3 linked regions of the Homo sapiens genome follow. The protein of the gene in region 2 interacts with the protein of the main gene of each other region in a pairwise test. Each region holds a gene or a part of one and is shown on either strand. Other genes may lie near its edges.

Evidence for each region.
Region 1: the proteins of GOT1 (region 2) and BRAF interact in a protein complementation assay, tested with the Homo sapiens proteins (one large-scale study listed by IntAct).
Region 3: the proteins of GOT1 (region 2) and AGTR1 interact in a two-hybrid assay, tested with the Homo sapiens proteins (one large-scale study listed by BioGRID and IntAct).

Annotation. Positions count from the first base shown.
Region 1 is NC_000007.14:140,736,274-140,739,929, forward strand, and holds part of BRAF (serine/threonine-protein kinase B-raf), read right to left. Parts: coding exon 3,539-3,656; intron 1-3,538. UniProt on the Homo sapiens protein: Protein kinase involved in the transduction of mitogenic signals from the cell membrane to the nucleus. Phosphorylates MAP2K1, and thereby activates the MAP kinase signal transduction pathway. Phosphorylates PFKFB2.
Region 2 is NC_000010.11:99,420,527-99,424,182, forward strand, and holds part of GOT1 (aspartate aminotransferase, cytoplasmic), read right to left. Parts: intron 280-3,656; coding exon 98-279; intron 1-97. UniProt on the Homo sapiens protein: Biosynthesis of L-glutamate from L-aspartate or L-cysteine. Important regulator of levels of glutamate, the major excitatory neurotransmitter of the vertebrate central nervous system. Acts as a scavenger of glutamate in brain neuroprotection.
Region 3 is NC_000003.12:148,739,292-148,742,947, forward strand, and holds part of AGTR1 (type-1 angiotensin II receptor), read left to right. Parts: intron 1-508; exon of another isoform or gene 509-665; intron 666-1,697; 5' UTR 1,698-1,744; coding exon 1,745-2,824; 3' UTR 2,825-3,656. UniProt on the Homo sapiens protein: Receptor for angiotensin II, a vasoconstricting peptide, which acts as a key regulator of blood pressure and sodium retention by the kidney.

The sequences.
Region 1 (3,656 bases), on a different chromosome or scaffold from region 2:
GCCCAGGCTGGTCTCGAACTCCTAACCTCAACTGATCCACCCACCTTGGCCTCCCAAAGTGCTGGGATTACAGGTGTGAGTCACTGCGCCTGGCCTCTTCAGTACCTTTTTTTATGTATAAAAATACATACATGAAAACAAGGCCCACCTGAACACCACTTTTTTTTTTTGGAGATGGAATTTCACTCTTGTTGCCCAGGCTGGAGTGCAATGGTGCGATCTCGGCTCACCGCAACCTCCGCCTCCTGGGTTCAAATGATTTTCCTGCCTCAGCCTCCCGAGTAGCTGGGATTACAGGCATGTGCCACCACGCCTGGCTAATTTTGTATTCTTAGTAGAGTCAGAGTTTCTCCATGTTGGTCAGGCTGGTTTCGAACTCCCAACCTCAGGTGATCCGCCTGCCTCGGCCTCCCAAAGTGCTGGGATTACAGGCGTGAGCCACCGTGCCTGGCCTCTGTTTAACCTTTTAAAGTGGTTATCAGGCTGGGCACTGGGGCTCACGCCTGTAATCCCAGCACTTTGGGAGGCTGAGGCGAGAGGATCGCTTGAGGCCAGGAGTTCAAGACCAGCCAGGGCAACATAGTGAGAATCTATCTCTACAACCACCACCACCACCACCACAAGAAATTAGCTGGGTGTGGTGATAGGCACCTGCAATCCCAGCTACTTAGGAGGCTGAGGTGAGAGGATCGCTTGAGCCCAGGAGTTTGAGGCTGCAGTGGGCTATGATCATATTACTGCACTCCAGCCTGGGCAACAGAACAGGCCCAGCCTATAAAAAAAAAAAATGAGGTATCATACTACATTTTGTTTTCTGTCTTGTTTTCTTTTTCTCTCACCAATATCCATGTCATCAATACAAAACTAACTTAATCTTAATGTCTTTTTCTTATTATAGTAAACATTCTTATATATATCTGAATACTTATGAAATAGGTTACATAGCACAGATTTTTAGAAGTATTTTGAATTTATGGATTCTACCAAGGTCTTCCAAAATGCTGCCTTCCACCAAACCTTTAAAATTTTACATAGAATGCTCCTCCTCACTTCCCAACATTGTTCCCAGTGCTGGATATTACCAACCTGAGAGGCGAAATTAAAATATATTTCACTGTTGTGTCTTTGCATTTTACTGACTGCCATGGAAATATTTACACCTTTTCCTAAGTTCATTCACCATTTGTATTTATTATGTGAATCACCTGTTCATATTCCCTTTGCCCATTTTCTATTGTTTGTTACTTATTGATTTGGAGGAGTCCTTTGTATATTATAAACATTTACTTTTTGTTATATATGCTACAATTATTCTTTTTATCTTTCAATGTTATTTTTCTATATAGAAGTTTAAAAATTTTTAATGTACTCACATCTGCTAATTTTTTCCTTCTGAATTTTGTCTATTAAGAAAGCCTTTCCTACCTCAAAACTATAAAAATGATTTCATATTTTATAAAACATATAGATCTTCAGCCATCTAAAATTTATGTGGCATATAACAGTATGGTGTGAAAAGATATCCTGTAACAAAAATTTCAAAATAACACTTTAAAGGGATAGCCTCCAATAATCTGGAAAGTTCACATATGCACTTCAGTTTTTGAAACCATGTAATTAATGAAATGTTATATTTAGAAGTATGGAGCTAAGCATTTTGCCCCTTTTAATATCATTTAAAAAGTGGGCCTAAGGATGTACTTTGCATTATTAATGTCAATAAACATTCTAAGTAAGAACCCGAGCACCATGACGTGAAAAGAGAACATGGGACAGGGTCATGCTGAAGCTGCTCAGCAGCACTTGTCTCTCACCAGGACAGTCTCAACCCAGAGGTTTCCTGACTTAGAGAAACAAATAAAAAAATAAAAAGAAAAAATAAAAACTCTTCCTCAAAGGAACAGTAACTTTGAAACCTGATAAATGAAACTTATATCTACCCAGCCAACCACTTAGCTTTCCCTTTCTTTTCTTAGGCAACACCCTGACAGACTTGTTAAAACCATCAATTTTATCTTCTTTCATTCTTTAGAGAAGAATAACATTTTTTAGATTTAAAAATAAAGGATGAGTGAATCTAATTCCTGTAACATTGACTTCTGTCTGAGTTACTCAGCTAGGACTGGGCATTCAAAGGCCTAAGAGTTCATACATGAACACTCCAGTAATTATGGTAGCAGGGTTACTATGGGAAATAGCACTTCCCACTTGAAACTGTACTGATTCATCAAGGCATATTTATCCAGTGCTATCAGGAGCTCCCTAAGTATCAGAAAACATTGCATTTATATTATAATATCTACTACAGCTAAACTCTGTAAGCTAGTTGAGGTATTTAGATATTTTTGTTTTGTTTTGTTTTAAACAGAGTCTCATTCTGTTGCCCTGGCTGGAATGCAGTGGTGTCATCTCAGCTCATTACAATCTCCACCTCCTGGGTTCAAGCGATTCTCATGTCTCAGCCTCCTGAGTGGCTGGGATTACAGGCTCCTGCCACTATGCCCAGCTAATTTTTGTATTTTTAGTAGAGACGGTTTTCACCATGTTGGCCAGGCTGGTCTCGAACTCCTGACCTCAACTGATCTGCCTGCCTTGGCCTCCCAAAGTGTTGAGATTTGTAAGCCACGACACCTGGCCTTAGTTACAGTTCTTTTTGAAATTTGTTAACTTAAGGCTTTATCCTTCCAATATGGAAAAAAAAAAAAAAAAGCAGTGAGTTATCAAGAATTAGGTAAAGGCAGGCTGAGCTGACAAATGCCTTACTGCCTTTTCCTTTTTCTGCATCAGGCAGAAATGCCCCTCAAAAAGACCCAGTATTAAAGGAAAGCTTGAATCTGTTTACCACCAAGAAGAAATAAAGCAGTGGTTCACAAAATGTGGTCCGTGGACCACCAGGGGATCCACGAGGTCAAAACTATTTTTGTAATAACAATAAGATATCATTTGCCTTTTTTACTGTCATTATTTTACAAGCGTTAAGTAGAGTTTTTAGGGGTGACATGATGTGAGATATTGCAATGTGAGTGCAAAAGCGGAGAATCCAGCTGTCTTCTTTTTGCAAAGGGATTTGCAAAAAAAGTAAAACAATACAACTCCTCACTAATTTTTTTCTCTTAGATAATAGAACTGTTTTTTTCTAAATATTATTTAACATATTGGTTTACTATGTTTAATTCATTAATATTTTAAAAAATAGTTTTAATTTCTAATAAGGAATTAAAACTTATATAAACAAAAGCTCTTTGTGGGGGGGGGGGTCTTCGATAATTTTTAAATGTGTAAAAGAGTTCAAAGACTGAGAAGTCTGAGAACTGATGGACAAATGCAAAGTCTTTCTGAATATTTTGTATTAGGACCCAAAATTTCTAGGTGTGCCACTGCTCAACCCTCATGAAGCCATCTTAATGTGTTTTCTTGTCTGGAGTCTGCACATAGAATCCAAACTCATGAAATACACACTGTGTGCCCAAAAAAGTGCTCAGAAATCTGTCTATGAATGTTAGTCTGTTCTTTTGGATAGCATGAAGCTTTTACTTACTTGGGGAAAGAGTGGTCTCTCATCTCTTTTCTTTTTGAGGCACTCTGCCATTAATCTCTTCATGGCTTTTGGACAGTTACTCCGTACCTTACTGAGATCTGGAGACAGGTATCCTCGT
Region 2 (3,656 bases):
AATAGACATAACGCCTAATATTTTAAACAAACTGTATTCTCAACATCTTTTTACTTTCAGTTTCTAAAGAGAAAATACATCCTTACCCAAAACTTACCCGCTTCTCCTTGAGTGCTGGGCTGTCATCCCCAAGGGCAAGACGAGAAGCACAGCTCCGGAACTCAGCCAGGCCCAGGATTGGCAGATACTCGTGATTTAGGCTATTGTCATTAGCAATCTTCTGCTCCACTTTCTTCACTACTGGCAAAACCCAGGGATGGCAGTCATCCGTGCGATATGCTGGAGAATGGAAAAGAGTTATACATAGTGGAGGCTCATGCTGTGTCCAAGTTAAGAGTTTGTAACTGTGAACCAGGAGAATCCCACCACCTTCCGGTCAAAACAGAACAGTGAAGGAAATTGGAGAAAAGTTTGTTCACTTACTGAGTACCTAATTTGAGCCAAGCATTGGGCTAGGTGCTGGGCAAACATAAGGGCAGATGTGGTCCCCATCCTTGTGGAACTTACAGCTCTTAACTATGTGACCTCCAAAAAGTAGAATGCTGAAATAAAACTGGGACATCACAGAGCCTGGTCACATGAGAAAGTACATAGAAAAGCACTCTGCAAAGTAAAAAGCATCTTGCAAATGTCATGTCAATATCACTAGTGCACTGAGGTCTCTAGGCCATTGGCCCAGCAGTCTTCTTCCTTCTGCATCTCCCCAAGAGACTTCCAGAAAAAGCCTAGGTGCTACTTCCACATGAACCTGGCACCTTTAACACAAACATGGAGAAGGAGTGGAAGAAGGCCCACCACTCCTCTTGTCCCAGAGGAACAGAAATAAGACGAATGATAAGCAAATGCCCTGACGATTTCAATGACAGGTGACACAATCACCCAAGGACCCACTTAAACACATCTCTATCCTCTCTCTGTATTTTGACCTCAGCCAGTGTTTACCCTTCTGACTTCATCCCACTTCATCTGCCTCACCCTTTCATTGATCTAAATTGATCTATTTCACAATATTTGATCCTGCTCTACAGTAAACCTCTAAGCATTTCCTCTTCCTCTGAAAGTATTTTTAAGTCACTCTGAGTTATCCAGCACCAATTTTTTTCCCTACACTATTCTATGATTATGTTAGGATTAGAGCTTTACAGGGCAGTTACCTTAGCTTTGCACCCACGCCAATAATCTGTCCAAGTAGGATTCCTGGCAGGGGTCATTTGCCTCTCTGTTTGAATGTTTAGGTCCTCAATAATCCTACACTTACGCAAGTGATTTTGAAATGGAAACAAAATTTTAGAGTGATACTGATTTTTATTTTCTTGATTTCTGCCCAAAATTAATCCCTGACTTAAAAAAAAAATTACATTTTAGGGTTGTTGTTACCATTTACTGAACAACACGTGTTGATTGTAGAAAATTGGGAAAAGCCCAGAAGGTAAAAAATAAACATTATAATTAACATGTGATTGTGTTTTGAAATGTGAGAAGGCGATGAGATTTGATAGGGGTCAGGAGTAGACTGATATAGTTTGGCTGTGTGTCCCCACCCAAATCTCATGTTGAATTGTAATCTCCAGTGTTGATGGACCATGGGGGCAGATTTCTGCCTTGCTGTTCTTGTGACAGTGAGTGAGTTCTCACTACATCTGGTTTTTTAAAAGTGTATAGCACCTCCCGCTTTGCTCTCTCTCCTGCTGGGCCATGTGAAGGTGCTTGCTTGCGCTTCACTCTTCCTCCATGATTGTAAGTTTCCTGAGGCCTCCCAACCATGTTTCTTATATGGCCGGTGGAACTATGAGTCCATTAAACCTCTTTTCTTTATAAATTACCCAGTCTCAGGTAGTTCTTTATAGCAGTGTGAGAACTAACATAACATATAATCCCAGTACTCAGAGACAAGGAGTATGAAAATTTTGGTGTACAACCTTCTAAGCTTTATTTTTGATGGGCATATTCTTTTATAAAATATGGATCAAACTGTACATAGAATTTCAACATGCTTTTTTCCATTTAAATATATACTATGCATTTTTCCTCCTCATTAACTATTCTTCTAATAGGTGACATGTTTGCATGTCTCCATCCCATTCTTATCCTCTATCTACCTAGTTCTCAAATCCCTCCCTCCATAAATAACAACTGTTAGTTTCTTACATATCCTTCCTGCATTTCCCTATGCCTACACAAGCAAACACAGCTTCTTACATATGCCCTTTTAAACAAAAGGTAGCATACGGCATACTATACACTGTTTTGTGTTCCTTGCTTTTTCCACTTGAAAATCATTTTACATTTGCGCATAGAGAGCGTCCTTGTTCTTTTTTACAGCTGCTTAGCTGATGAATGTACCATATTTTACTTTGCCAGTCTCTTGTTGGACATTTGAGTTGTTTACAATCTTTGGCTATTAAAACAATACTTCAGTGAACGACCCTGTACATACGTCATCTCACATGTATGCAAATATATCTGTAAGATGCTGGGTGGAAAACAAAAGAGTGGGCTAAGAAGTATGTGTTTTTGTAATTTTGACAAATATTTCCAAATTGTCCCAATTGATACAGGAATTATATCAATTTACATTCCCACCAGCACTGTTTAAGAGCGTTTGCTTCCACACAGCCTTACGCACTGAGTGTATTTTTGCCAATATAATATGTCAAGTAGTTTTAATTTGCATTTATCTTATTATGAATGCAATTGGGTATTTTTCATAAATATGAGCCATTTACAACATCAGTTTAGTGGATAAATAATATTTGTTTTATATATAATTTATTAACTGTGTTGCTTTAAATTATTTGCTATTATAAACATTGTGATAAATGTTCATATATTTACACATATTCATGAGTGTTTTCTTAGGAAAAATATCTAAATGTTAATTTATTAGGTCACAGGATATACAGTAAAAAGACTTTATAAGATCATTTTGAATGATCAGCTAACTCTACCCTCCAGGAATATGTCATCTGCAAATCTGAGAAACATTTCAAGTTAGTAATAGAAATGTGGACAGGGCTACAGACTGACAGAGCCACTGACCAAATGCCTCTGGGTAGGTGAATCAAACAATACTCTCATACCACTCATAGTCTACCCTCCGGCTCTGGTGAATCTAACTCACAATATTTTTTTCTTTTTTTGAGACAGGGTCTCACTCTGTTGCCCAGGTGAGAGTGCAGTGGCACGAACACAGCTCACTGCAGCTTCAACCCCCTGGGCTCAAGCAATTCTCTTGCCTCAGCTTCCCATGTAGCTGAGACCAAAGTCATTCACCACCAGGACCAGCTAATTTTTTTTTTTTAAATTTTTCATAGAAACAGGGCCTCACTTTGTTGCCCAGGCTGGTCTCAAACTCCTGGGCTCAAGCAAACCTCCCGCCTCGGACTTCCAAAGTGCTGGGATTACAGGAGTGAGCCACCATGCCTGGCCCAACTCACAATACTCTCATACCATTCATGATATACCCCTTAGTCCACCAAACTTCTCAACAAGTTCAAAAAGCCTCCTTCGCCAGCTGGGATTTGGTCTGGCTTCTCTAAAGATGTACCAAAATAGCTACTTCCAAGTAAGAGTTGTCCCTAAAGCACATCAACATATCTATGATCACAACGTTACCATTGTTCAAAATATTCTTGAAACTTCTTTTGGAATTGTTT
Region 3 (3,656 bases), on a different chromosome or scaffold from region 2:
GAGATCGCAGTGAGCCAAGATCGCACCACTGCACTCCAGCCTGGGCAATACAGTGACACTCTGTCTCAGAAAAAAAAAAAAAAAGTGTCAAACCTACATCCAAAATGTCAAAGTGCTCAAAAAAGTTGGGAAGGCTTCACCAAAGATGTGACATTTAGGGTAGATAACACCTGTTTGTGGATACTAATGTCCTGGTGAGTCAAAGAAGAAAAGGATGTACATTATATAAGCTGGATGCAAAAAGGAACAATAATGAGGACATGCAACCAAAAACTTACATAGGGAGAACAACTTTACTTACTCAGGGAAGGCAAAGAGACCACTTAAGAACTCCTTCACATGTGTTATGTCTTAAAAGCTGACTACTGGAGTTGTATCCCTTGCACAGCATCCCTTTGCACCAAAGTGAACACTACTCTAAGAACATGTGTTCAGCTCTCCTGAATGCCAAGCACAACCATGCTTGGCATGGCAGTGGTGTCTTATTTCTGCTCCTCTTTTTCCCCAGGGCATGCCATTGCAAGAGAATGCTCAGCCATGTTCATCTGGGGACCTGCTCCTGGTAGAGCAATAGGATCTGTGTGCCCAGCACCACTGCCCACCTAGCTGTCCTGGCCTGTGCCCAATGCTGACCTTCACCTCAGAGTGTGGCTGTACCACATTCGGTGATGTCACTCTCACTGAACCTTCAGCCTCCTTCCTGGGACTTCCTGATGGACTGTTATCCAGGGCAGAATGTGTTGATTTTCTAAATCACATAAATGAATAGCTTGACTGTTGATTATGTAGAAAATCAGAGCAAATATTTGCATGGCTTTGTGCAGCCCATTCTTGAGCATCTGATTCTCCCCAGAATTCTAAAAAACCTGCTGCTTTCTCAAGCCCTCAGTAAAGACATGCTTTCTTGATAATCCTAGCCAAACCTATTCATTTGACATCTTTGTTACACAAATGGTTAACCACAGAGTTAACTTCAGAAATGGCTGGCAGGTATGAAGGTTAGAAGATTCATGCACTTTTGCTAGACTGAATTGGAAGTTAAAGAGTAAGTAGTTACTGACTGCAGAGGCCTGGAAAACCATGGAAAAAATCCTATTCCTCAAAGTCGAGCCCTACCTCCTACGCCTCTTAAATCAATTGCCACAGTGACCAATTTGTCAGTCACCTAAAGGCAGCTATCCTGACCACTTAAGGGAGAATACTTATAATCTTTATACCTAAGTAAAGATTGTGAGAGGAAAGAAATGGTTTAAAGAATATGAATGTGTCACACTTCTGAGGTTAATGATAAATGAATTGGTCCTGCTTACCTCAGGAAAAACTTTCAAGTCTTTCTGAAAAACTAATTTAATTCAGTAGTATTTTCTAAGATTTAGGTTATGTTTTTAATCAATTTGGAAACCAAGATTTACTTATAGAAAAAAAGGAAAAGGACCTAGATAGGTTTATTCACATAGAATCCCAATTTCACTTCTCTGGATGATACCATTTTCTACAAAAGCAATTATGTTCTAAAATTTAAGTGTGCTTTCTTAGGCTTTATCAGTTCACAGTGTTTCCTTAAGAAATATGATCCAGTATTTTTTCCTAAGACTAAAGTTGAGTTACTACGTTTATGACTGAGAAATGAATGTTTGTTAGTTTGTTTGTTTACAATAAGAATTTTTTCTTTACCATTTTATTTTTATTTTCCCCAGGTGTATTTGATATAGTGTTTGCAACAAATTCGACCCAGGTGATCAAAATGATTCTCAACTCTTCTACTGAAGATGGTATTAAAAGAATCCAAGATGATTGTCCCAAAGCTGGAAGGCATAATTACATATTTGTCATGATTCCTACTTTATACAGTATCATCTTTGTGGTGGGAATATTTGGAAACAGCTTGGTGGTGATAGTCATTTACTTTTATATGAAGCTGAAGACTGTGGCCAGTGTTTTTCTTTTGAATTTAGCACTGGCTGACTTATGCTTTTTACTGACTTTGCCACTATGGGCTGTCTACACAGCTATGGAATACCGCTGGCCCTTTGGCAATTACCTATGTAAGATTGCTTCAGCCAGCGTCAGTTTCAACCTGTACGCTAGTGTGTTTCTACTCACGTGTCTCAGCATTGATCGATACCTGGCTATTGTTCACCCAATGAAGTCCCGCCTTCGACGCACAATGCTTGTAGCCAAAGTCACCTGCATCATCATTTGGCTGCTGGCAGGCTTGGCCAGTTTGCCAGCTATAATCCATCGAAATGTATTTTTCATTGAGAACACCAATATTACAGTTTGTGCTTTCCATTATGAGTCCCAAAATTCAACCCTCCCGATAGGGCTGGGCCTGACCAAAAATATACTGGGTTTCCTGTTTCCTTTTCTGATCATTCTTACAAGTTATACTCTTATTTGGAAGGCCCTAAAGAAGGCTTATGAAATTCAGAAGAACAAACCAAGAAATGATGATATTTTTAAGATAATTATGGCAATTGTGCTTTTCTTTTTCTTTTCCTGGATTCCCCACCAAATATTCACTTTTCTGGATGTATTGATTCAACTAGGCATCATACGTGACTGTAGAATTGCAGATATTGTGGACACGGCCATGCCTATCACCATTTGTATAGCTTATTTTAACAATTGCCTGAATCCTCTTTTTTATGGCTTTCTGGGGAAAAAATTTAAAAGATATTTTCTCCAGCTTCTAAAATATATTCCCCCAAAAGCCAAATCCCACTCAAACCTTTCAACAAAAATGAGCACGCTTTCCTACCGCCCCTCAGATAATGTAAGCTCATCCACCAAGAAGCCTGCACCATGTTTTGAGGTTGAGTGACATGTTCGAAACCTGTCCATAAAGTAATTTTGTGAAAGAAGGAGCAAGAGAACATTCCTCTGCAGCACTTCACTACCAAATGAGCATTAGCTACTTTTCAGAATTGAAGGAGAAAATGCATTATGTGGACTGAACCGACTTTTCTAAAGCTCTGAACAAAAGCTTTTCTTTCCTTTTGCAACAAGACAAAGCAAAGCCACATTTTGCATTAGACAGATGACGGCTGCTCGAAGAACAATGTCAGAAACTCGATGAATGTGTTGATTTGAGAAATTTTACTGACAGAAATGCAATCTCCCTAGCCTGCTTTTGTCCTGTTATTTTTTATTTCCACATAAAGGTATTTAGAATATATTAAATCGTTAGAGGAGCAACAGGAGATGAGAGTTCCAGATTGTTCTGTCCAGTTTCCAAAGGGCAGTAAAGTTTTCGTGCCGGTTTTCAGCTATTAGCAACTGTGCTACACTTGCACCTGGTACTGCACATTTTGTACAAAGATATGCTAAGCAGTAGTCGTCAAGTTGCAGATCTTTTTGTGAAATTCAACCTGTGTCTTATAGGTTTCCACTGCCAAAACAATGCCCGTAAGATGGCTTATTTGTATAATGGTGTTACTAAAGTCACATATAAAAGTTAAACTACTTGTAAAGGTGCTGCACTGGTCCCAAGTAGTAGTGTCTTCCTAGTATATTAGTTTGATTTAATATCTGAGAAGTGTATATAGTTTGTGGTAAAAAGATTATATATCATAAAGTATGCCTTCCTGTTTAAAAAAAGTATATATTCTACACATATATGTATATGTATATCTATATCTCTAAACTGCTGTTAA